Linked DNA regions of Homo sapiens: region 1 is linked to region 2. Evidence: fine-mapped expression QTL. A gene starts in region 2. The other region holds a variant in brackets. All regions are shown on one strand. Distances are from middle to middle. Region 1 overlaps EGFLAM (EGF like, fibronectin type III and laminin G domains). Region 2 holds the start of EGFLAM (EGF like, fibronectin type III and laminin G domains).

What was found. PIP is the estimated chance that this variant, and not a neighbour inherited with it, causes the effect. A credible set is the group of variants that fine-mapping cannot tell apart.
Region 1: its variant is the best candidate, but not a certain one, in a credible set for the expression of EGFLAM in skeletal muscle (GTEx, PIP 0.87).

Annotation. Positions count from the first base shown.
Region 1 is chr5:38,453,053-38,458,430 of GRCh38, reverse strand. EGFLAM (EGF like, fibronectin type III and laminin G domains) reads right to left here. Exons shown (of 22, transcript NM_152403.4): 20 at 37-120. The region is part of intron 1 of EGFLAM-AS5 (EGFLAM antisense RNA 5); the gene reads left to right. Among named protein-coding and RNA genes, the nearest start is that of EGFLAM-AS5, 13 kb to the left of the region's middle. The variant T/C (reference allele first, on the strand shown) is at 2,073.
Region 2 is chr5:38,255,798-38,261,175 of GRCh38, reverse strand. It overlaps EGFLAM (EGF like, fibronectin type III and laminin G domains), which reads right to left and starts at 2,617. Exons shown (of 22, transcript NM_152403.4): 1 at 2,325-2,617. The coding sequence starts at 2,421. LOC124900966 (a long non-coding RNA gene) reads left to right here and starts at 2,510. Exons shown (of 2, transcript XR_007058739.1): 1 at 2,510-2,582; 2 at 3,545-4,079. RefSeq lists an enhancer at 3,486-3,987.

The DNA.
Region 1 (5,378 bases), 200 kb before region 2:
GCTCTGGCTCTGCCTCATGCTGCGGGAGGGACTCACCTAACGGCCTTAACTCGGTGCCACCGACCATCGTTGAAGGAGCCATTCACCATGATGGATGCCACACCACTGCCCAGGTTATAGCTAAGGCATTGGAGAAGAAGAAGACAGAGAACAGAATAAAACACTGAGGCATAAGCAGACACGGTTCACAGACGATTCTCAGGGCAAAAGTTCTTTGCAACTCAGAGTGCAGTTTCCTTAACAAAAAACAAGAGTGTTATAAAAGTTGTTGGGTTTCTAGGCTGGTTCATGAAATTAAAAATTATTAAACTTTTAAATTATGGTAAAATATATGTAACATAACCATGGCCATCGTAACCATTTTTAAGCATACAGTGCCGCAGCATTAAGTACATATTCATATTGTTGGGCTGGCAATTTCCAAAACTCATCTTACAAAACAAAAGCATTGCATTAAATAATAACCCCTCATTCTTCCCTCCCCCCAGCCCCTGACAACCAGCCTTCTACCTTCTGACTCTGTGGATTTGATTCTTCTACATACCTCATATGAGTGGCATCATAGAGTATTTGTCTTTTTTGTGACTGTGACTGGCTTACTTCACTTAGCATAATGTTATCAAGATTGTTTTTTAATGCCCTCATGTAAGGCAACATCAGTACTAAAGTATCAGGAATAACAAGAAGGGCTTTATCATGTGTAATGTTTTATACTATGTTACGATGATGGTCTGCCCCCTCCCTCCACCCGCCAAATTCATGTCTACCCAGAGCCTCAGAATGTTACTTATTTGAAAATAGGGTCTTTGCAGATTCATTAGTTAAAATGAAGTCATACTGGATTAGGGCAGCCATGGATCCAATATAACTGGTATCTTTATGAGAAGAGATTTGGACATGGAGCCAGAGACACACAGAGACAGGGAAAGCCATGGGAAACTGGAGGCAGGGACTGGAATGGGGCATCTCCAAGCCAAGGAATGCCAAGGGCTGCCAGCCACCACCAGAACCTGGGGGACAGGCATGGAGCCGATTCTCCCTGAGACCCTCCAGAAGAAGCCAACCCTTGCACTGCATGGTGGATTTCTAGCCTTCAGAACTGTGAGAGAGCCCACTTCTATTGTTTTAAGCCACCTAATTTGTGGTCATGTATTATCAGAGCCCTAAGAAATGAATGCATCTGTTTTCACTTTTTAAAAAAAAATGAACATTGCAGAGTAGGGTGAGCCCCAGAGAGATTAAGGGAATTTGCCTAAAATCACAAACCTAATGTAGAACTTGAACTTGGTGTATCCTCTGCCCTTATCCATTTAACTCTGCTATCAGGTTTCTCTAGTGGCTTCCTATTTTCTATTTCAGTTCCCAGATACCCCGATACCATAAGGGTTTCAGAAAACATGAACATGTTGTTACCAGAGAGAAATATCCCCCTTAATCCAGTGTTCATTCAATTATTCTAATTAAATTTAATTCGACAAATATTTAGTGAGTGACTACTCTAGCCCGGGCACTGGGCCAACTGCCCAGACTTTCCCTGGATAATACAATAAAGCCTAGGCCATCAAGCTTTTGAAGGGAAGTATGTTCCACCTGGGATGACTCCCTCCTCATTTTGTAAGAGGACATATCTCTCCTTCACCTCATTGCCCAAGAGAGAGGGATGTCGAGAGAAAATCTGGATGAGTTAACAAGCACTGGCATGTACTCATTCTGAGAAAACAGCAAGAATAGAAAGTGCTTGGCTTTCTCCAGAGAAAGCACCATAGATCATTCCTTTAATAATGGAGGCTCGAAGAACTCACACAGCCCATTGACATTTAACCAAGAATAGGACTTGGGGTGACTTGACAAACCCTGGGACAAAGCTGCCACTCTGACCCTGAAAAGTCCACTGTTTTCTAATGAGTTTTCCCACATCAAGTACCTCCTTGTATAAAGCAGCCTGGTGGCGGAATTTTGAGATTTCATGATTTGGTGGCTAAATACTTCTTGAATGAATAGGAAGTAGGGCGAGTTGCTGGTGGGCAGAAACTTAGCTGAATTACTATCTATGGCCGTTCTGAGAGGCAGCG[T/C]GGGGTGATAGAAAGAGCACGGACACTCAGATTCAACGGACCTGCCTTGATCCCCAGACTCGCTAGTTAACAGCTCTGTGACCTTGGGCAACTTGCTTCATATTCTCATCTGTCAAACGGGGATAATAATCCCTTCCCTGAAGAATCCTAGGGAATGCTAAGTAACATGACATATGTAGGAAGCACTGCACATCGTAGGAGCCAAATGAAAAATCCCACCACTCCCAACAGAGGCAGCACTTAGTGCAGCTTGGATACGGGGTTGACAATGCACCCCAAGGGACTGGTAGGAAGGAGAAAGTTGCCACCAAGGCTTGAATATGTCACACCTCTTCTGAAGACTAGCCATGTGTGAAAGTAAGCCAACAAGCTGTCAATATATAACCAAAGCAGTCCGGAACACCCAGATCTCAGAATCAAGGTGATCTGGCTGTGTACGTGAAGGGAGGCTGGATTGGAACATGATTGTGGTGCAGTGAATGAAAACCTTTTCAGTTGTCTAAGAGCCCATCTAGACAAAGGGTGCCCTTCCTTCTGTTCTGCAGCCCGACAACTCTCCTGTTCAGGCCAAGAGCTAGAATGTGCTCTAGGGAGTCAACCGTGAACCTGGCAGACAGGAATCCAGCCATCACTGTGGGAGGGGGCAACTCAGTTGGCTTCTCCATGGCCCGATTCCCCAACCCTTCAATTCCATCTGATTTCAGACCCTCCAAAGAACCTCCCGCTTCCTCTGACGTGCTGATACTCACCCTGGAAAAGCTCCCTCGTGTATATAATCATAAATGACCAAGAAGAGTGGTTACCTTCACTGGGAGAAGAATGAGGGAGCATTTTTGGGTGGTGGACATGTTCTATATCTTGTTCTGGGTGACAGTGATTCAGTGTTTACATATTCTAAATGTATCAAGCTCTACACTGAACAGGTGTGCATGGCATGGAAGGTATGCCTCAGTATAAAAATGTAGAAACAAACAGATATAAGAATGTATGTCTAACTTCTCTACCCACGTCTTGGGAACCTGGTTGCCATGATGGGTTATTCTGAGCCACTCAGCTTGGTGTGCACTAGAGGCTGTGAGCCAGAGCACCAAGGTGGGCCACCCGGAAATACCTTCAGGTGAGGCCTTTTGGAAACCACTCGGCCACCTTCCTGCTTTCCTGTGGTGGCACTTTTAATCATGCCCCCTTTAAATTGTAGCACAAGGCACTTTGCTAATGTCAAGTCTCTTCCCCCTCTTCGTTGCATGAAGATGTGATGAGGTGAAACTAAGCGGGCAGTGTTCACTGTGAACAGTCAAGCAATGTTCACAAACCCCACCGGTGGTAGGTTTTATGCCCCACATACAATCACAAAACAAAATGAAACAAAACAAAAACAAAACAGAAAACAGAAAAACACACTCATTTTCACTGAGCACTTTGATTTCCTTATTTTTTCTGCTAAATCTTGCACCAAAACTATAAATATATATACATATATACATTTTTAGAATCCCATTGTTTTTCCCTATTCTCTGGCAGAAAGCCTTTGAGCACTAAATTAGCCAAAGAACCAGCTTTTAGGTAAAGAAAGTCATGAAAGTTGGGACTATATTTTATTATCTTAGGGTTCCTCTTCCATCTGCTTTGAGCCTGGATCAAACACTGAAACCTCAAGAACGATTTGTCTGCTCTGTAGAACAATTCACTCTCCAGACTGCACAGATCTGTGCCCCTTGGGCGCAGGGCCCGTGACTTATTAAAAATAACAATAACAATAATAAAAATAAGAACTACATTTTAATAATAACTACGTGTTCTCTCTCTGAGGTAAAGGCTTCTAAGACTCAGAAAATGCTTGAGCAAGGATCATAATTTTTCTTATCATTATCATTAATTAGCTACACCTGACCCCACACTGAACCCCTTACATGAATTCATTCATTTAATCTTTACAGCGAACCCTGTCGTTTTGCAAGGAGGGGACAGAGGCTGAGATTTAGGTAACTCATGAGCCCACGTGGGGGATCAGGCATGTGTGATTCCAAAGCCACTTCAGACCCTGTTTCTCAGGGCATGGGTCCCGGAAACACCCGGGTGCTTGTTTCTAATCAGACCCGGTGCCCACCACACCGCTGACATCTTCAAACCACTGGCCTACACTGGAATTCCTCTCTGTCCCCAGCCCGCCGGTACGCTTCCCTACATCAGCATCGGGGACATTGATGTGGTGGGATAACAGCCCAGATGGAGGAAGAACAGAGTGGCAGCAATGGGGCGGCTCCAGGACCAGAGCAGGCACAGAAGTCGACCTCGGCCTGGGTTCAGCAGTGTGTCTTACACAGATCACAATCAGAACTCCAGGATTGGAAGAAAAACAGAGGGCCAATTTTCAGAATCCTGAGAAAGAAATGGTAACAAGAAGTATGTTCAGGATAAAGCAGAGCTCTTTGAAGGATCCTAAGCAGGTGGGAGAGGGGAGGGGGCTCTCCAGGGCTGGGCATGGGAGCTGGTGGGAGCTGTTTCCCTACTGGAGTAGAATGGGTGGTGAATAGATTCAGCTGGCAGTTTAGGGGGAAGTTGGACCATCCCACCCACAGCTGAGCTTCTGTTTCGGTTCTCTTTTCTGGGCACAATCAAGTACTTGAGGCCTTGATGAGGTTAACCACAGGAAAACCATAAGAAAATGGCTTCAAGGCAGCCAGCCTGAAATAGGGTGTGAAGAGCTCCGTGTTCAACCTCTGGGCTAGCAATGGGTGGGAGGCTACGGAGGACAGGAAGGCAGAGATGGTGAGAAGCTGCCTCTCACCTGCCAGCATCCAGCCTCAACTACATATGAGTCTCCAAAGTCCCCAACAATCATAAGATGGAGTCACTTAGCATGCTCTGCTATTTAGGGAATAGCATAACATTGGACAAGTGACATTTCCTCTCAAAATGCCTTTTATTCAAACAGAAAGATTTCTGTTATCCTACTTGGGCTGTCAGTAATCTTAGCACAGGACCAACAGAAGCCCCAGAATTAAGTCTTCAGCTTCTCCACTGTTTAGTGATCCCTGCTTTGTCTATTTCAATTCAATTACTTTCATATCATTTAGCAAACACTTGAGCTAGTCATCAGAGGGTGAATTAAGAAGTAGAAGTCCAAGAAATGAGTTCCCCCATGGAACTCAAAGCTTTGAGGGTATCAGAATCGTCTGGGGAAGCGGTTACCACACGGATTGCTGGACCCCACCCCTAGAGTGTTTCTGGTTCAGTAGATCAGGTTGGGGCCTGAGAACGTGGATTTCTAACAAGTTCCCAGGTGATGCTGGGGCTGCTGGTCTG
Region 2 (5,378 bases):
TTTTTTCTCACCAGAGGTAGGTGCGGATGGGGAATTTCCAGGTTGATTTTGAATCCAAGACTTCTCCAACAATGCTATACTTATCAAAAGTAGATTTAGGAGTATGAGGAGATAGGGAGGGTCATCCAAATAAGACAGAACCGCTCCAGTATGCCTGCACCGTGGCCACGATACCTTCAAAGTACTGTCTATGTACCAATTTCTGTTGAGGAAACAAGGTACAAAGAAACTCCCATATGGATACTAGCAGGATTTGCTAGTGTCTGGGGAAGATTATAAATTAGCTAGTTGCTGCTCACATCAGAGCCAAGCAGGGCACATTCAGTTTTTTAATCTGGACCAATTTTCCGGATCAAAAACTAGTCTTTCCAAGGGATGTAAATGAGCCCAGGAGGGAAATTTCCCCTGAAGTTATGAAGTAGCTGTCATTTTAATCTGAGAAGCTTTCCAACCTGAAAGCTAGTGTCTGGATAAAATTATAAAGTAATAAAAATAAAACTCTTCTAGGTTGAACCTAGTCTAAACACTTCTATCTCAAATTTGATGTAATTAATATGCCAAAGTATTTAAGAGGTGGTGTTTCCACTATCAAAACCCTATCTATGCTTCAAATAAAACCAAAGAGGCCAGCATGGCATATTCCTGGCATGAATATCAGAATGAGACCCTGAATGAACCAGGTAGAAAATCTTTTTAGGAGAAGAACTCCAAAAAATAAGAAGGAAAATATGATGACCCACATGAGCAGTTTTATACAACAGGTTTTTATAAAATGCTTTTTAAAAATTCCCCTTAAATGGATTAAAATATATCCTTTAAAAAGCATTGCATACACTGTTCATGCTTTAAAACTATAGATATAACTATGCTTTGTTTAAAAATTGTGACAATTAATAGATGATTTCATGTGAATAAATCTGCAAAATGCAATTGATCGTGATGTGGTTATCTTAAGGAGGAAAGTTAGAAAGAAGCCCTTCACTGAAATCCTTGAAGGTATATGTATGTGTGCGTGCAGGAAGAGAAACAATTTAATGTGATATTACCTTGGACTGAAGCTATTATCTCCAAAATGAATTGAAGAGCTCATAAATGGAGTGGCTCATAATTTAAATATGGTGTAGATTATGATAATGACCTTAGATTTCAAGGCAGGTAACAAGTGCTGGTAATAAGAGACACAGTGCAAAGACTGAGGACGCTTCCAGAGCCGAAATGCAACAAGTCATATTTCCAGATAGAGAGTTTCAATGCGAAAATATTTAAGCATTCACATGGGATCCCGCTAAGACGATTTTCTCTGCCCTCTGATAAATTTTCCTAGCTTTGCCTCTTTCTTACAGAAACGTTTGTGAAGACAAACTGCACTTTCTGTGAGGTTTTGCAGACTGCATTCAAATAAAAGTAATATTGTTTTCCATTGTTCATAAGATATAATTAATCCCATAAGACAACCTCCCTTACAAAGTAAGTTAAGACAAAACAGATTTTTCAGAATTCTAAATATGGTCCCAGCAAAAAGTAATAAAAATCGTTATTTGGGAAACAATGTTTAGAACTTCATTGTTCAGAATGTTCTACTTTGAATAATCTCACAGCATAGGCCAAATCAAAGTAGACCAAAATAAACGAAGACTTTTTACCTATATGCAGCTAGAGGAAACACACGTTATTATGGTTTCAAGTTCTCCCCCAATTCCCAGTCCCTTATAACAGGTTACAACGTACATTTCTTTGTTTAAATGCCAAAGCAAAGACAGGAGTTCAAAACACGGTAAAATTAACCCACTGGGTGCTTCCTTCTGAACAAATGGCCCCAGAGTGGAAGAGGATGCTAAGAGCAGAGTCCACATCCCTGCACAACGCGTGGGCAGGACCCGAGATGGGCAGAGGGGGCTCCAGGCAACCCTTCAGACACTTAACAGGAAATGGCTGGGCTCTGGACAATATGAATTGAGTAAAATGTTTGGAGACGCAGGAGGGGCTGGTTTGACTCCTCTGCATGGTTGCCATCCTCTGTAATTGAGACAGCACGATCGCTGTCCCAACTGTCAGCTCTCTGCGGTCAAACACGGGGACCACCACCTCTATCTACTATGTCTGGAAAATTGATCATTCTTTTAATAAATAAATATCCCTAGCGCCGCCCGGGCTCGGGGGAGGGCGAGGTTTGCGTCTTTTCTCAGCTCCTGGCAGAGCTGAAGCGAGTTAAGCAGACGTTGGTCGGGGAGAGGGAGGCGGTGCGCTGCCCGCTCTGTGTCCTCGCCCCGGAGCCCAGCAGGGGCGCTCGGGGCGTGGTGGCTCTGGGCGGAGGAGCGCATTACCTGGTTTTCGGATGGCCGCTCGGAGCGACACCGCGCCGGGTCCGAGGCTGGAAGCCAGGAGCAGGAGCCGGAGCAAGACGCCTCGGATTAAATCCATTTCGCAGCCGGCGCCTGCAAAGTTTCACCAAGTCCCGGGCGCACACGGAAAGGGCGTCTCCGGGGGCGCGTGGGGGACGCGGCCCCAACGGATCCCCGGGCCGGGGCGAGGAGGTGGGGGGCTGCGAGGGCTGGGCCCGGAAACACGGGTAGTTCCAAGAGGTAGGACTGCAGCCGGGAGGTCGGCGTGCGCGAGTGAAGCCGGCTGCAAGCTGCAGGGCTTTTCGCGGGGGCGGGGGCGACGAAGGAGGCCGACTGGGAGGGAAGGGCTGGCCGCGGGAGGGAGGGAGGCTCGACCGGCCCGGGGATGAAATTACAATCGAGTGGAAGTGAGAGGGACAGGCCCTGAAACCTTCACTCCTCGCCCACCTCGGAAGCAGACAGCCCGCCCCTCACCCTCTCTAGCGACCCCCAGCGCAGCCCTTCCCCGCTGGTGACCTAGATTGGGGACCTGGGAGGGACCGACTTCAAGCACTGGAGACGCAGGGCAGGAGTTAGGCGACTGCGGGTCCAGGACCCTCCGCGGTCCTCACCCTGAAATCTTGGGGCGCCCCCCCTCCACCCCACCTGGGCCCTCCTCCTGCCGCGCCCCTCTAGGCGACTTTTTCTAACACCTCAAAGGTTGCTGTAGTTGGTCCAGCGCACTTGGGGGATGCGAGGGGTAGACGGGGGTCTGTGATTTGCAAGTGGGGTGGGGGTGAGAGGAAGAGAGGCGGGACCGTCCGGGTCTGAGGCGCTAAGAAGATAAATGGGATTTAAGGCTCGCAGATGGAGAGCTGAGGCCAGGCCGCTCAGACTGGGACGCCGGGTGGAGATTAGGGCCTGGAGCGGGGGAGTGGGGGCCCTTCCCGGCAGAGGAAGGCAACTTGAGACCCTCCTGGGGAGGAGATGAAACTCCAAGTTAAGCCTGGCGTCTTAGGGAGGGACGCGAGCTCGAGCCCCCAGGCGGACCGAGAAAAGCCCCTGGGCGGCGCCCAGCTGGGCCTGGGGCAGGGGGCCGGGGCGGGGTCCTGGCCTCTGATCCCGGGATCGGGCTTCCTGGGTTGTCTCCTGAATGGAGAAAGACTCTTTCTCCGCCGCTGAATTTGCTGCCCTAGGACTCAGTAAAATGTACCTTTTGCCAGATTTCGCGGTAGTGCCTGGAGAGGGGAGACCCTGCCTGGGACACAAGTCCCGTTGCATACTGGCGTTCTGACCTCCAAACCAGCGAGAAGAGAAAGCAGATACAATAAATAAACCAAGAGGGAATAAACTTAGAGGCAAACGCGGCCCTCGGCAGTTCCTGGGGAAAGATCAAAGGCCGTAGGAAGTGCCCCGCAGAGGAAATCTGCAGTCACTAGCGACAGGACCGCGCCCGCCCCCTCCCCACCTTGCAACGCTGCCAGGACTCGGTGGGCGTCCTGGCTCTTCACAGTTAGCCTATGTTTGGGAGCGCGGGAGGAAACAATGTTGACTGATATATTCTTCTCCCCTCCCCAGCCCCCCAAACACACACACACAGGATTTCTACTCCTCTTTTAAGAATGAAATATCCCCTGGCTGGAGAGTTTGTAATGAGCTCAATCTTGTTAGTTAGCAAAGCTGAGTGTGTTCCCTTATGTGTTGGCATTTTCAAGTGTGCAATTGTCTGTTCACAAATAAATTCAAAGTCCCCTCCAACTTGAGTATTTGGAAGTTTTAGCTGTGACACCAGAGCTTGTCCTCTTACATAGAACTGGAGCAAAGTTCAGACAGAACTATGCTCTTCACGTCCAAGGTGACCATAAAGCCGGCCACTAAGCTAAGCAAAGTGACTGCCCCCAAGGCTGCTAGTCTCAAAGGTCTCAAAATCATAGACTTTTTAGCATTTTAAAGGTCATCTAGGCCATGCCTCCACTCCACGCAGGAGTCTGCTTTCAGCATTGGTGTCGGGTCGTGCCACCTCCCTTTGAACTCCACCTGTGTGAGAGAGCTCCTCCAGCGCCAGCTGAGAAGTTGTTAGAGGCCTTTCTTTATGCGAAAGTGATTTCTTATCTCGGACTTAATGTGGCACCCAGAACCAAGCGAGTGTTGCAATGCAGATGCCTCCCATGCAGGCTTTCCTACTTAAAAATGATTCTCTGTGATGCTGAAACTGGAAGTAATAATAATCGTTGATATTATGGCTACCATTTATTTAAGGTCTCCTATGTACCAGACCTTCTTTGAAGTGCATTTTAATCCCAATAACAACCATACCAGGAAGATACTGTCATTACTATTCTCGCCTTTTACAGGTGAGGAACCTGAAGCATGGGAAGGTTAAGAAACTTGCCCAAGGTCATGCAGCTCCCATGCAGCGCTTGAATCCAAGGGGTCTGATTCCAGCTTTCAGGCTTTTGAGAGAACAATGTGGAAAGTAAACACAGCAGTGGACTGAGAGGATCGGGAGATGTGGGTGTTTAATCCTAGGCTCTGCGTATAGTGTGCCTTGGTAAAAATGAATGGGCTGGACGAAACAATCAGTAAATTCCAGGTTTTGCTTTCTCTTTAATAGCTGATAAAACAGCATCATCTAATCTAAGCTACCTTTACTCTGCATGTGCCTTTTAACAGACCCTGTGCAAATTGTCCACTGCAAATTTCGCAAGCCTGGGCAGCCTTCTTGCCAATGTCCTCCTCATGTGCCCACACCACCTCGGCATCCCTGGCCCTGGGCCTCCCTTCCATTTTTTTGCAGATGACCATAGGCGATTTGGGAAATAGGCTTGGTTTCTTCAGAGACCCCTCTTGTTTTTTCCTTGGGGAAAAACAACATTAGATTATACTGTTGTATTTTTACCTCTGAGGGCCTGCAAACACTCTGGATCATCAGGCCATTGAGATAAGACCTTATTTCACAAAATCTGCTTCAAATCTAGAGCACATGTTACATTAAACTTATTCCCTTCCTTTGCAGTTCAAATCGCATCCTCCAAGGGAACTGGAAGATTCCCTCTC